Homo sapiens: one gene and its partner. The protein of the gene in region 2 purifies or fractionates together with the protein of the main gene of each other region. This does not show direct contact. Each region holds a gene or a part of one and is shown on either strand. Other genes may lie near its edges.

Region 1 (4,098 bases), on a different chromosome or scaffold from region 2:
TGAATTCCCCAGCCCCTCGCGCTGCCTCGACGTTAACCCGAGCCAAGGCTGGGCCCCGGTCCCTCTAATTCCTCCTGGTGACCCCAACGCTGGTCCCCTGGCTGCCCTAGTTCCCCCGCATTAAGCCGAAAACTGGCACCCGTCTCCCTGCTTCACTTAGAATCCCATCCGAGGCTGGCCCCTGGTCCCCTCTGCCCTCTCCTTTCAAGCCAGAGGCCAGGACCCCCGCTCCCTCTGCTTCCTCCACGTTGACACCCGCCCTCCACCACACTCCCCCTGCATTGAGCACTGAGGGCTGCAGTCCTGGTGCCAGCATCGACTCACTGGGTAGCCTTAAGCTTTAAGTCAATTTGGCCCCAGCGTGCTCTGGGTGAGGAATTCCCTGGTGAAGAATGCCACCTTTTACAGTCCAGAGTGAAGCTAAGCCAGAGCCCCAACCCAGGCAGCCAAAGCCCTGCCAGGTACCCAGCTTTTGGGAGATAACCATCAAGATCCAGAGATTCAGGTTTCAACCGTTTTATTGGGAGGTTTTGTTTTCTGTGAAATACACTAGAGGGTGGGGAAGGGGACACATTCACTTTGCAAGATAAGGGTTTCCCACCACTAAAGGAAAGGCATGGGGCAGGGCACACTGGGGTTTGGGTCCGTTTTCCCACCTCCTTCTGCTTGGCTCACTTTTCTTTTCTCTCAGCAAGTACCACAGAACACAAAGACAAGAAACAAAACAGCAAATCAACCTCCAACGGGGCCATGCCCAAGCCTTCCCCACTCCCCCAGGCTGGGCAAGGGCTGGGAGGGGCTGGGGCAGCTCACTCGACAGCCCTCAGGCCACACGGGAAGGCTGCAGGCTCAGAAAGGGTGGGTCAAAGTTAATAAATTAGAATAAATTAGGGGGGAGGAATGCAACTTTGTGCTGGGAGGGCCCCTTCTCTCCAACACGCGAGAGTTGGTGGGGGGGAGGTGGGGGCATCTCCAAAGGCCACTACAGTGGGGGTAAGAGCGGTGGGGGCAGAAGTCACCTTTTCCTCCACGTCTTCCCAAACAGAGCAGAAGAATTAGGGGTGGGGGGAAGAGACACACACAAGGAGAGGAACCCTCTTTTCCTAGGATAAGGAAGGGCCAAGAAAGAGGATGCTATCCAACCCCCCATCTCCCAAGCCATCGCTAGGGTTAAGGATTTGGTCAGTGGATCAATGAGGTGGGTGATGGGAACGTGGTGGGGGAAGCAGAGGATGCTGGAGCCCTCGAGGAGAACAGACACAGGCTGGGGCAGCAGGGGCTGGGGGCGGCCACAATCACTGCTCAGCTTCTCCAAAGACGTCGTTCTGTTTGCGCTTCATGTTCTCAAAGTCAAAGGCCGTGCCAGCCATGCGTTTGTAGATGTCTTTGATGTCGTTGCAGGTTGTCTCAAAGTGTGTGGTGGCATCGTAGGAGCAGGAACAGAACACCTGGAAACAGCCAGAGCCCAGCGCCCAGGGTGAGTCAGACAGGTATCCTGGGCGGGCAGCCAGGAGCCCAGGGCTGGGACGAGCTGCTTACCTGGCTCTCACAACCATCATCAATGGGCTCATACAAGTCACTGATAGCCACAAACCTGAGGGGCAGACAGAGGGGAGGGGACAGGCCTCACAATGGGCCATGCCCTTCCTGGTCCCTAAGCCCAGCTGCTGGGCTCCCTCCCTCTCCCCCTTGGGCTCAGCCCAGTCCCTCACTTCTGGTCAATGGGCTCCAACAGCTCCAGAGCCGGCTCCACCTCCTTTTCAGGGTCCGTGGTCTCCACAGTAGTGCTGGCAATAGCTATGTACTTGCCCTGGGCCGCCACGTTGTGTGCATAGGAGATCATGCACACGTAGATGTCTGGCCACAGGAAGAGCTCCGTCAACTCAGGCCAGAGGCGCTGGCCATACGCAGAGAGGGGTTCCAGTGGCTGGACACAAGTCTGGCCCGACTGCCCCTCCCCAGCCCCGCAGAGCAGGTAGCATCCAAGCCGCCACCCTCCCAGAGGGAAAGAGTCCAGGCCACCCAAACCCTAGGGCTCCAAGTTGTGGTGGCTACAATGTGGCTCAAATTTTTTTCCAGAGAGGTAAGGCAGGGAGCTCCCACACTGATGGGGAGAAAAAGAGTAACCCCAAAGAGAACACCCTAGAGGAAGCTGTACCAGCGCCCGGCCTACCTGACTTCCTGTTGACCTGGTTCTGGGGGATGATTATTTGGCAGGAGTTGGCGTCGTTGGTGTTCTTGATGGGGTGGCTAAGGATACAGATGATGCGGATAACCTGGCCAGCCTTCCGCACACGGTCCGGGATGTAGCTGGGGTCACAGATCAGCTGCTTGCAGCGGGCCACCTGAGAAGGCACCAGAAGTCCTCGCCCCTGTCACATCCCTCCCTTAGGTAGACGTGGGGCTGCGCTCACAGCAAGGGCAGGCAGCTCTGGCAGACAAGACGTTCCTCGGAGCCATCACTACTGCCCCTCCTGAATGCATGGCCCTACCCTGCCGCTCAGATAGGTGGGCCTTGACGCACGGGCTGGGTGCCCGCCCCCCCGCCCCCCAGAGGCACTGTGATCAAGAACACTTTCTGCACCACAGACATGGCATGTGGCCTCTGAAAGAGACCTCTCACCCACAGTCATGACTCTGAAGACTTCTGGACCCCCAGTTCCCAGCTCCAAGACCCTTGGGGCTGTGCAGCAGGAGACTCGACAGCACAGAGAAAGTGACCAAGCCCCGCCTCAACCATGGGACTGCACTGCATGCACGGGAAGGGCTCACCTCTCCCTCAGACTTCACGCCCACCACCTTGCCGTTCTCCATGATGATGTCATCCACAGGTTTGTTCAGCATATATGTCCCCCCATAGATGGCACTCAATCTGTGGTGAGAGCAGCTCCGGTGAAGGCCCCTCCCAGGAGAAACGGGGACCAATTCCACTGCACCCTTCCTCCACCAAAGTGCAAAGAAGGCTGCCCCAGGCAGGCAGCAGGTAGGAGACGCCGGGATTCATCCCAGCTCTGTCACTGCCGTGAACGCTGGCCCCATCTCCGCGGGCTCTTTCCTCTCTGGAGCTTCTGCTCAGAATACACTGCCAAGGGCCAGCGGGAGGGGGCATGAGGGATCAGTGCTCCGCACCAAGACAGCCTGAGGGACCAGAATGGACTCTCTGGAGATAGGTCAGCTCCCAGCTAAGCCCTGACTCAAGGTTCTGGGACCCTGGGCCCAGTCCTGGTGCTGCCGGGAACTGAGCAAGTCACATTTGTGGAGACTCGTTTTTTCAAGTGTGGAGACTTCTGTACTTCAGTGCACTGGGGTTGTGCCCTCATCACCCAAGGATGGAGTGAAGTAAATGAAGAGCACGAATTGGAAAGGAGGAAATACTACCAAGAAAATGCTCAAGGCGGCCATCTCCACTCCTGGCCCTAGTCCTACTCAGCTATGCCAACTGAAAAAACCCATGTCCTCACCTTGCAAAACCCTGGGGCAGCTCGCCCAAGCCGTAGAGCGGGTATAAATATGGGCTCTTGCCATACCGGGCCAGGGACTCACTGTACAACTTGATGCGGTTGACGGTCTCAAGGCAGGGCTGGTCCAGGTAGCTGGGGGAATAGCAGCACCCCTGATTTACCCCCACCCAGGTACCAGGCCAGTCTTCCCACCACCCTGAATGGCCTGGGGAAGATGAGGATCAAATGCAAGGGGGAAATGGAAAGGGTGATAGGTGAGCCTGTGGCTGAGTACAAGAGACATGCGGGGCAGGGGGACAGCAGGCAGGTGTGGGAAGGGTGGGGGCGGGCCGGGCGAGGGGGCTGCCACCACCCAGCTTCCCCTCACTCATCAGTGCGGTAGAGCGCCAGGGCATGGCCAGTGAAATCGATGACATCCTGGCCCAGATCAAACTTCCGGTAGACGTCACGCATGCTGGTAGTCTGGGGGTCAACGCCCTCAAAGGTCTTGGGGTCATTCTCATCGAAGTTTGCCACAAACACCAGGAACTTGCGGAAGCGCCGTTTCTCAAACATGCCCATCAGATCTAAGGAACGCGGCGGGAGGAGGTTCTGCATCAATGCAGCACAAAACTCTCCATCCCAGCAGGGCAGGCAC
Region 2 (7,284 bases):
TTTGAGACGGAGTCTCACTCTGTCGCCAGGCTGGAGTGCTGTGACAAGATCTCGGCTCACTGCAACCAACTCCCTGGTTCAAGCGATTCTCCTGCCTCAGCCTCCTGAGTAGCCGGGATTACAGGCACATGCCGCCACACCCAACTCATTTTTTTATTTTTAGTAGAGACAGAGTTTCACCATATTGGCCAGGATGGTCTCAATCTCCTGACCTCATGATCCACGCGCCTCGGCCTCCCAAAGTGCTAGGATTACAGGCGTGAGCCACCGCGCCTGGCCAACGGAATCACTTTCTAAAGGCAGCCCAGCCATGTCAGAGGGAATTCTCCACAAGATAATCAGAGATGTCAACCCCACCCAAAGCATCTGTAATGAACCTGATTTTTTTTGTTGTTTTTTGAGATGGAGTCTCGCTCTGTCGTTCAGGCTGGAGTGCAGTGGTGCCATCTCAGCTCACTGCAACCTCCCTCTCCCGGATTCAAGCAACTCTCCTGCCTCAGCCTCCCCAGTCGCTAGGATTATAGGTATGCACCACCACGCCCAGCTAATTTTTGTATTTTTAGTAGAGACGGGGTTTCACCATGTTGGTCAGGCTGGTCTCGAACTCCTGACCTCATGATCCACCCGCCTCGGCCTCCCAAAGTGCTGGGATTACAGGTGTGAGCCACCGCACCCGGCTGAACCTGATGTATTTAACAAACAAAAATGTGTTCCATCTTACCAGTGATTAGGGAAATACAAATGTAAACAAGTTAGCCCTTTTTGCCTATCAGCTCAGCAAGAATGAAGACAGCTACTAAGATCCAGCACTGACCAGGGTTGACAAGGGGCACTTTCCACCCTTCAGTGGGACTGGATTAAATGACTCCAGCTTCTTTGAAAAGCAGGTTGGCAGTACCTATGAAAATTCTCAGTGCATACACCCTGTAAGCCAGTAACCCCACTTCTACAGAAACACGTGCACAAGAATAAGTATCAGCTGGGCGCAGTGGCTCACGCCTGTAATCCCAGCACTTTGGAAGGCCAAGGTGGGTGGATCACCTGAGGTCAGACGTTCGAGACCAGCCTGACCAACATGGTGAAACCCCATCTCTATTAAAAATATAAAAATTAGTCGGGCGTGGTGGCAGGTGCCTATAGTCCCAACTACTTGGGAGGTTGAGACAGGAGAATTGCTTGAACCCAGGAGGCAGAGGTTGCAGTGAGCCGAAATCGCGCCACTGCACTCCAGCCTGGGTGACAGAGCAAGACTCCATCTCAAAAAAAAAAAAAAAAAAAAAAAAAGAATAAATATCGCCTATATCCCAAGTAGCTAAGCATCGCTGAAAACACAACCAGAAGTCAGGCACGATGTAACAGCAGCGTCAGTGCACCATGTGGTGCCTTCAAGCACAGAAAGCCCACCGCACTCAGATGAACCACAAAGGCCTGCATGTGGAGCGCAGAAAGAAATCAGAAAGACACACGCTGACCACAGGCTGCCAGGGAGGCATAGGGGGCAGGAGCAGGGACTGTGTCCCGGGTGGCACCATAGACGCTGTTATGGGAACCTTCCTGTTTGGACCATGGGTGGGAAAATGATGGGCCAGCCAAAGGGTTTTCGTGAGCAGGTGCATTAGACAGACCACAGAGGCTTCTGACAGAAGCGCCACAAGGTCCTAAGCCCCACTCCATCTTCTTCCCTCCTCTGGCAACCAGAATGAGACAGTTCCCAACATCAGGCAGAGGCAACTCTGTTTGGTGCCAGGGAGGGGATGTCAACAAACAAACAAAAACGACACCCCAGCAGCACTGCAGGGGAGGACTCACCTGAGAAAGTGTTGTCTGCAAAACGCAACAGTAAACTGCTCTTGCCCACACCTGCAAGAGAGAAAGCACTGCGATGAGGGGGGCAGGTGGGTCCCCTCCCCGCAGCCCCAGCCCTTCTTCCGGGAGAGGATGCCTCAGTCCCAACTCTTAAGAAGCTCGGTGGGACCCAGCTCACTTCTCAATGCTCTTTCCACCTCCCTGAGCGGCCACACACCAAGAACATCTCTTCCACTCGATCCCTGACCTTTTCCTTCGTCCTTGTGTAAGACAAGCTGCTCCCAAATCCCCTGGGGGAGAGATGAGAAAGGGACTGGTGCCCAGGCCCTAGGCTGAGGGCTGGCCCAAAGGGAGATGCCAGACGACAAAGCAGAATGAAGGTCAACCACACGAAACGGCCCCCAAGTGCGTCTACAACATGGTCCCTAGAAAAGTGCACAGCACGTTGTAGCACATCAGTTAGGGAGCCGCCCAAAATGAAGAGCTGTAGAGCGGGAAAGGACCCTTGAGATCATCAGGGCTATTTTGCAGGTGAGGAAACCAAGGCCCACATAGCTAGAACTCAATGGCTACCATCTTTCTGGCTGATGTCCCCGCCGGGTGGGCTGGTGGAGTGGAGGGTCTGCCTTATACCCATCAGGGCAGCAGCCCACATGTGCTCAGACCATGCACCAGCCACAGCAGCTCCTGGCTGCTTAGAGCACAAACATGTACACATCTGGCCTCCCCCACTTTTTTTGTAAAGAAATGGGGTTTCAGGCCAGGCGCGGTGGCTCATGCCTGTAATCCCAGCACTTTGGGAGGCCGAGGCAGGCGGATCACCTGAGGTCGGGAGTTCAAGACCAGCCTGACCAATATGGAGAAACCCCGTCTCTACTAAAAATACAAAATTAGCTGGGCGTGGTGGCACATGCCTGTAATCCCAGCTACTCGGGAGACTGAGGCAGGAGAAGCACTTGAACCCGGGAGGCGGAGGTTGCAGTGAGCTGAGATCATGCCACTGCACTCCAGCCTGGGCAACAAGAGCGAAACTCTGTCTCAAAAAAAAAAAAATGGGGTTTCATTCAGTCACTCAGGCTGGAGTACAATGGTGCAATCATGTCTCACCACAGCCTCCAACTCCTAGGCTCAAGTGATCCTCTGACCTCAGCCTCCCGAGTAGCTGGGACCACATGTGCATACCATCATGCCCAGCTAATTTTTTTATTTTTAGTAGGGACAGAGTCTGGCTACGTTGCCCAGGCTTTTTTTTTTTTTTTTTTTAATCTTTTGTAGAGACGAGGTCTTGCTATGTTGCCCAAGTTGGTCTCAAACTTCTGGCCTCAAGCAACCCTCCCGCCTGGGCCTCCCAAAGCGCTGGGATTACAGGCATGAGCCACTGCGCCTGGACCTCTCCCCTTGACTTCAACTCACAGTGCTTTCAGCCTGCCAAGTACACCTGTTCCATGTCCTCCTATCCTGTCCCCAATCTCCAACACCCCTGAGGCCAGCCAAGTTAATTGACCACAAAGAATTCACATGCATCGGGCTGTGTGTGTGGTGAGCCCTTGGATGCCTCTTTGATTATAATTCTGGCCACATCTCTTGAGATGAGGAACCTCAGGCCCAGAGTGGCCGGCCTAAGTGCCTCTGTGAGCAGCAGTAAAGCTGAGATCTGCATCCAGGCCGGACTCCTCCAGAGTGCTAACACTCCTCCCAATACACATTGCTGGGAGTCTTGCGTCTGGTTCAGGAAGTTTGGAAAAAATGACCTGTGGGGGCTCCAACATCTCACTCCTGTTAGATTTTTAATGAAAATGCCACGAAAGCTATGAAACCCCCTGAAACAAAGTGCAGATTTGAGCCTAGGTGTCTGTTCATGGGAGAAGCCCACAGCATTTTTTTTTTTTTTGGAGAGATAGGGCCTTACTCTGTCTCTCAGGCTGGAGGGCAGTGGTGCGATCATAACTCACTCTAACCTTGAAATCCCCAAGTACTACAGGTGTTCGCCACCACACCCAGCAAACTCTTTAAAAATTTTTTGTAGAGATGGCCTCTCACTATATTGCCCAGGCTGGTCTCAAACTCCTGGCCTCAAGCAATCTGCCCGCTTCTGCCTCCCAAGGTGCTGGGCTAACAGGCCTGAGCCACTGCATTTGGCTCCACAATTTTAATAGATTCTCAAGAAGGGCACTGCCTCCACCTGCACTCTACCAAGTAACCAAAGCGGAAAACCACTGTCGCAGTTGTATTTCCCTAAGCCTAACCCCAGCATCCTCTCTGGGCAATCCTCTAAAGATCTCTTCTGGGAGCTTCTCCTGGTGAGTGAGCTGCCCCACGATGCCCAGAAGAACTTGTTTCACTGAGTAAGCCTGGGTCCTACTTTCCTAAAGACAGGCCAGGGTGAGGCTCTCCTGGGCAGGCAGACGCTGCTCAGCCTGGGCCTGCAGGGCTCATGCTCAGGGCCACTTCCTCCTTGCTCCGCCGTGAGGCTTCCTGCTGAGCTCAAGGAGAGCCCGAGTCCCGGGTTGGGTCCTTCACGGCGCTGTGCCCAACACCAGCACCCCACTGGCCTCGCCGCCTCCTCTGCTTCCTCCTGGAGCCTTCTGGGTCCAGCTTACTCAGCTAAAAGCTTGAGTCTGGGAGTTCCTCTAGGACAGAGCCCTCGCCTCACCCGCCCTGTGCATTCACAGTGCTGTAAGCCAGGCCCAGCACTTAGTAGGTGCCAACCAAACACTGCTTAATGAATTTCTGCCTAAACGAACGCCCGCCACACTGACAGCTCTGCTATCCAGCGCTCCCACTGCAGCACAGCAGGCGCCTAAGCAGGGGTTTCCAAACTTCTGCAGGGCAGCAGAATCCTTTTCTTCATCCAAGCTTTACCCAAATCCCATGTGTAAAACAGCTCTCTCTGCAATGACACAGCAGTATCCCCTCCAGCTTGGCCTCTCCAGGTCCCCATACTGTCCCCAGGCGTCTCGGCAGAGCAGTTAAAAGCCACTAGGCTGGCCAGGCGCAGTGGCTCACACCCGTAATCCCAGCACTTTGGGAGGCCGAGGTGGGCAGATCACGAGGTCAAGAGATCGAGACCATCCTGGCCAACATGATGAACACCCCACCTCTAGTAAAAATACAAAAATTAGCCGGGCGTGGTGGTGCGTGCCTGTAATCCCAGCTACTCGGGAGGCTGAGGCAGGAGAATCGCCTGAACCCAGGAGGCGGAGGTTGCAGCGAACTGAGATCGTGTCACTGCACTCCAGCCTGGGCGACAGAGCGAGACTCCATCTCAAAAAAAAAAAGCCACTAGGCTGCAGAAAGACCACAACCATCACCACATTATCTGCTGCTTTGGACCTGACACCAACCTCTGACACTGCTCTCCCTTTGAGAGGAACAGAAACCCACCCCAAGAAACACTACCTCCTAAATATCCCTGGAAGAGGCTTCCTCGGAAACACAAGCTGCAGCCATTACCCCACACCATCAGTGTCAGGGCAGGAGCAGAGGGCACCCACCAACCTTCACCACAGCCACCCCCGAGGCTGCCCAAGGGCACATCAGCATGACCCCAACCAGTCCAGCCTGTCATTCTTTTTTTTTTTTTTTTAAATGGAGTCTCACTCTGTCGCCCAGGCTGGAGTACGGTGGCGCGATCTTGGCTGCAACCTCCACCTCCCAGATTCAAGCGATTCTCTTGCCTCAGCCTCCGGAGTAGCTGGGATTACAGGCGCCCGCCATCACGCCCAGCTAATTTTTTGTATTGTTTGTAGGGACAGGGTTTCACCACATTGGCCAAGCTGGTCTCGAGCTCCTGACCTCAAGTGATCCGCCTGCCTCGGCCTCCCAAAGTGCTGGGATTATAGGAGTGAGCTACTGCTCCCGGCCTTTTACCCCTGGCTGCTGTATCTGGTCCTCACCACGCAAGCCACACACATGTCTTCCCTTCCTCCTGCTCCTGCCTGGGCTATGGCCCCCTCACTCCTCTCTGCTTCAGTTCAACCTCTTGAAGAGCCCTGACCTTTCAGTGAACTGTTCTCGATATTTTTTTTTTTTTTTGAAACAGGATCTTGCTCTGTTGCTCAGGCTAAAGTGCAGCAGCGTGATCATAGCTCATTGCAGTCTCAACCTCCCAGACTCAAGAGATCCTCCCACCTCAGCCTCCCAAGTAGCTGAGACCACAGGCGTGCACCACCATGCCCTGCTAATTTTCTTCTTTTTGTTGAGACAGGGCCTCCCTATGTTGCCCAGGCTGGTCTCAAACTCTTGGGCTCAAGTGATCCTCCACCTCGGCCTCCCAAAGTGCTGGGATTACAGGTGTGAGCTACCGTGCCTGGACCTTTTTTTTTTTTTGAGACAGTGTCTCATTCTGTCACCCAGGCTGGAGTGCAGTTGTGTGATCCTAACTCCCTGTAACTTTGAACTCCTGGGTTAAAACAATCTTCCTGTCTCAGCCTCCCACATAGCTGGGACTATAGATGTGCACCACCACGCCCAACTGATTTTTTTTTTTTTTTTGAGATGAAGTCTCGCTCTTGTCCCCCAGGCTGGAGTACAGTGGCACGATCTCGGCTCACTGCAACATCCGCCTCCTGGGTTCAAATGATTCTCCTGCCTCAGCCTCCCGAGTAGCTGGGATTACAGGTGCGTACCACCACACCCAACTAATTTTTTGTGTTTTAAGTAGGGACAGGGTTTCACCATGTTGGCCAGGCTGGTCTCGAATTCCTGACCTCAGGTGATCTGCCCACCTCGGCCTCCCAAAGTGCTGGGATTACAGGTGTGAGCCACTGTGCCCGGCCTTTTTTTTTTTTTTTTTTTAAGAGATGGGGTCTCGCTATCACTATGTTGCTCTCACTATGGTCTCGAGTTCAAGTGTTCCTCCCGCCTCATCCTCCCAAAGCACTAGGACAAACTACTGCCCCCAGCCATGTTCTCAATTTTAAACCTGCCTCAGCCACCACCTCACTGTATAACCTCACACAAGTCACGCCCCCTCTCTGAGCCTCAATTTACTCATCTGTCAAGTGAAGGGCTAACTCCATCTCCAAATGAGGATGGCTGGCCTGAGGGATGCAGACGACATGCTGTTACAAATCAAAGCCAGTGTCAGAGAGTATAAGGGAAAGTATAGAAAATACAGAACTGGCCGGGCGCGGTGGCTCACGCCTGTAATCCCAGCACTTTGGGAGGCCGAGGCGGGCGGATCACGAGGTCAGGAGATAGAGACCATACTGGCTAAAATGGTGAAACCCTGTCTCTACTAAAAATACAAAAGATTAGCCGGGCATGGTGGTGGGCACCTGTAGTCCCACCTACTCGGGAGGCTGAGGCAGGAGAATGGCGTGAACCGGGGAGGTGGAGCCGGCAGTGAGCCGAGATCGCGCCACTGCACTCCAGCCTGGGCGACAGAGCGAGACTCCGTCTCAAAAAAAAAAAAAAGGAAAAAAAGAAAATATAGAACCTCCGGCATAACGAAGGGATGCAGAGATTGAGGGAATC

Evidence for each region.
Region 1: the proteins of RAB35 (region 2) and GDI1 purify together in Homo sapiens (affinity purification with mass spectrometry; 4 studies listed by BioGRID and IntAct, with this or other methods). This does not show direct contact.

What each region holds. Positions count from the first base shown.
Region 1 is NC_000023.11:154,439,870-154,443,967, reverse strand, and holds the end of GDI1 (rab GDP dissociation inhibitor alpha), read right to left. Parts: intron 4,028-4,098; coding exon 3,829-4,027; intron 3,594-3,828; coding exon 3,462-3,593; intron 2,873-3,461; coding exon 2,773-2,872; intron 2,346-2,772; coding exon 2,174-2,345; intron 1,858-2,173; coding exon 1,713-1,857; intron 1,595-1,712; coding exon 1,540-1,594; intron 1,449-1,539; coding exon 1,296-1,448; 3' UTR 501-1,295; downstream 1-500. UniProt on the Homo sapiens protein: Regulates the GDP/GTP exchange reaction of most Rab proteins by inhibiting the dissociation of GDP from them, and the subsequent binding of GTP to them. Promotes the dissociation of GDP-bound Rab proteins from the membrane and inhibits their activation.
Region 2 is NC_000012.12:120,106,608-120,113,891, forward strand, and holds part of RAB35 (ras-related protein Rab-35), read right to left. Parts: intron 1,861-7,284; coding exon 1,810-1,860; intron 1-1,809. UniProt on the Homo sapiens protein: The small GTPases Rab are key regulators of intracellular membrane trafficking, from the formation of transport vesicles to their fusion with membranes.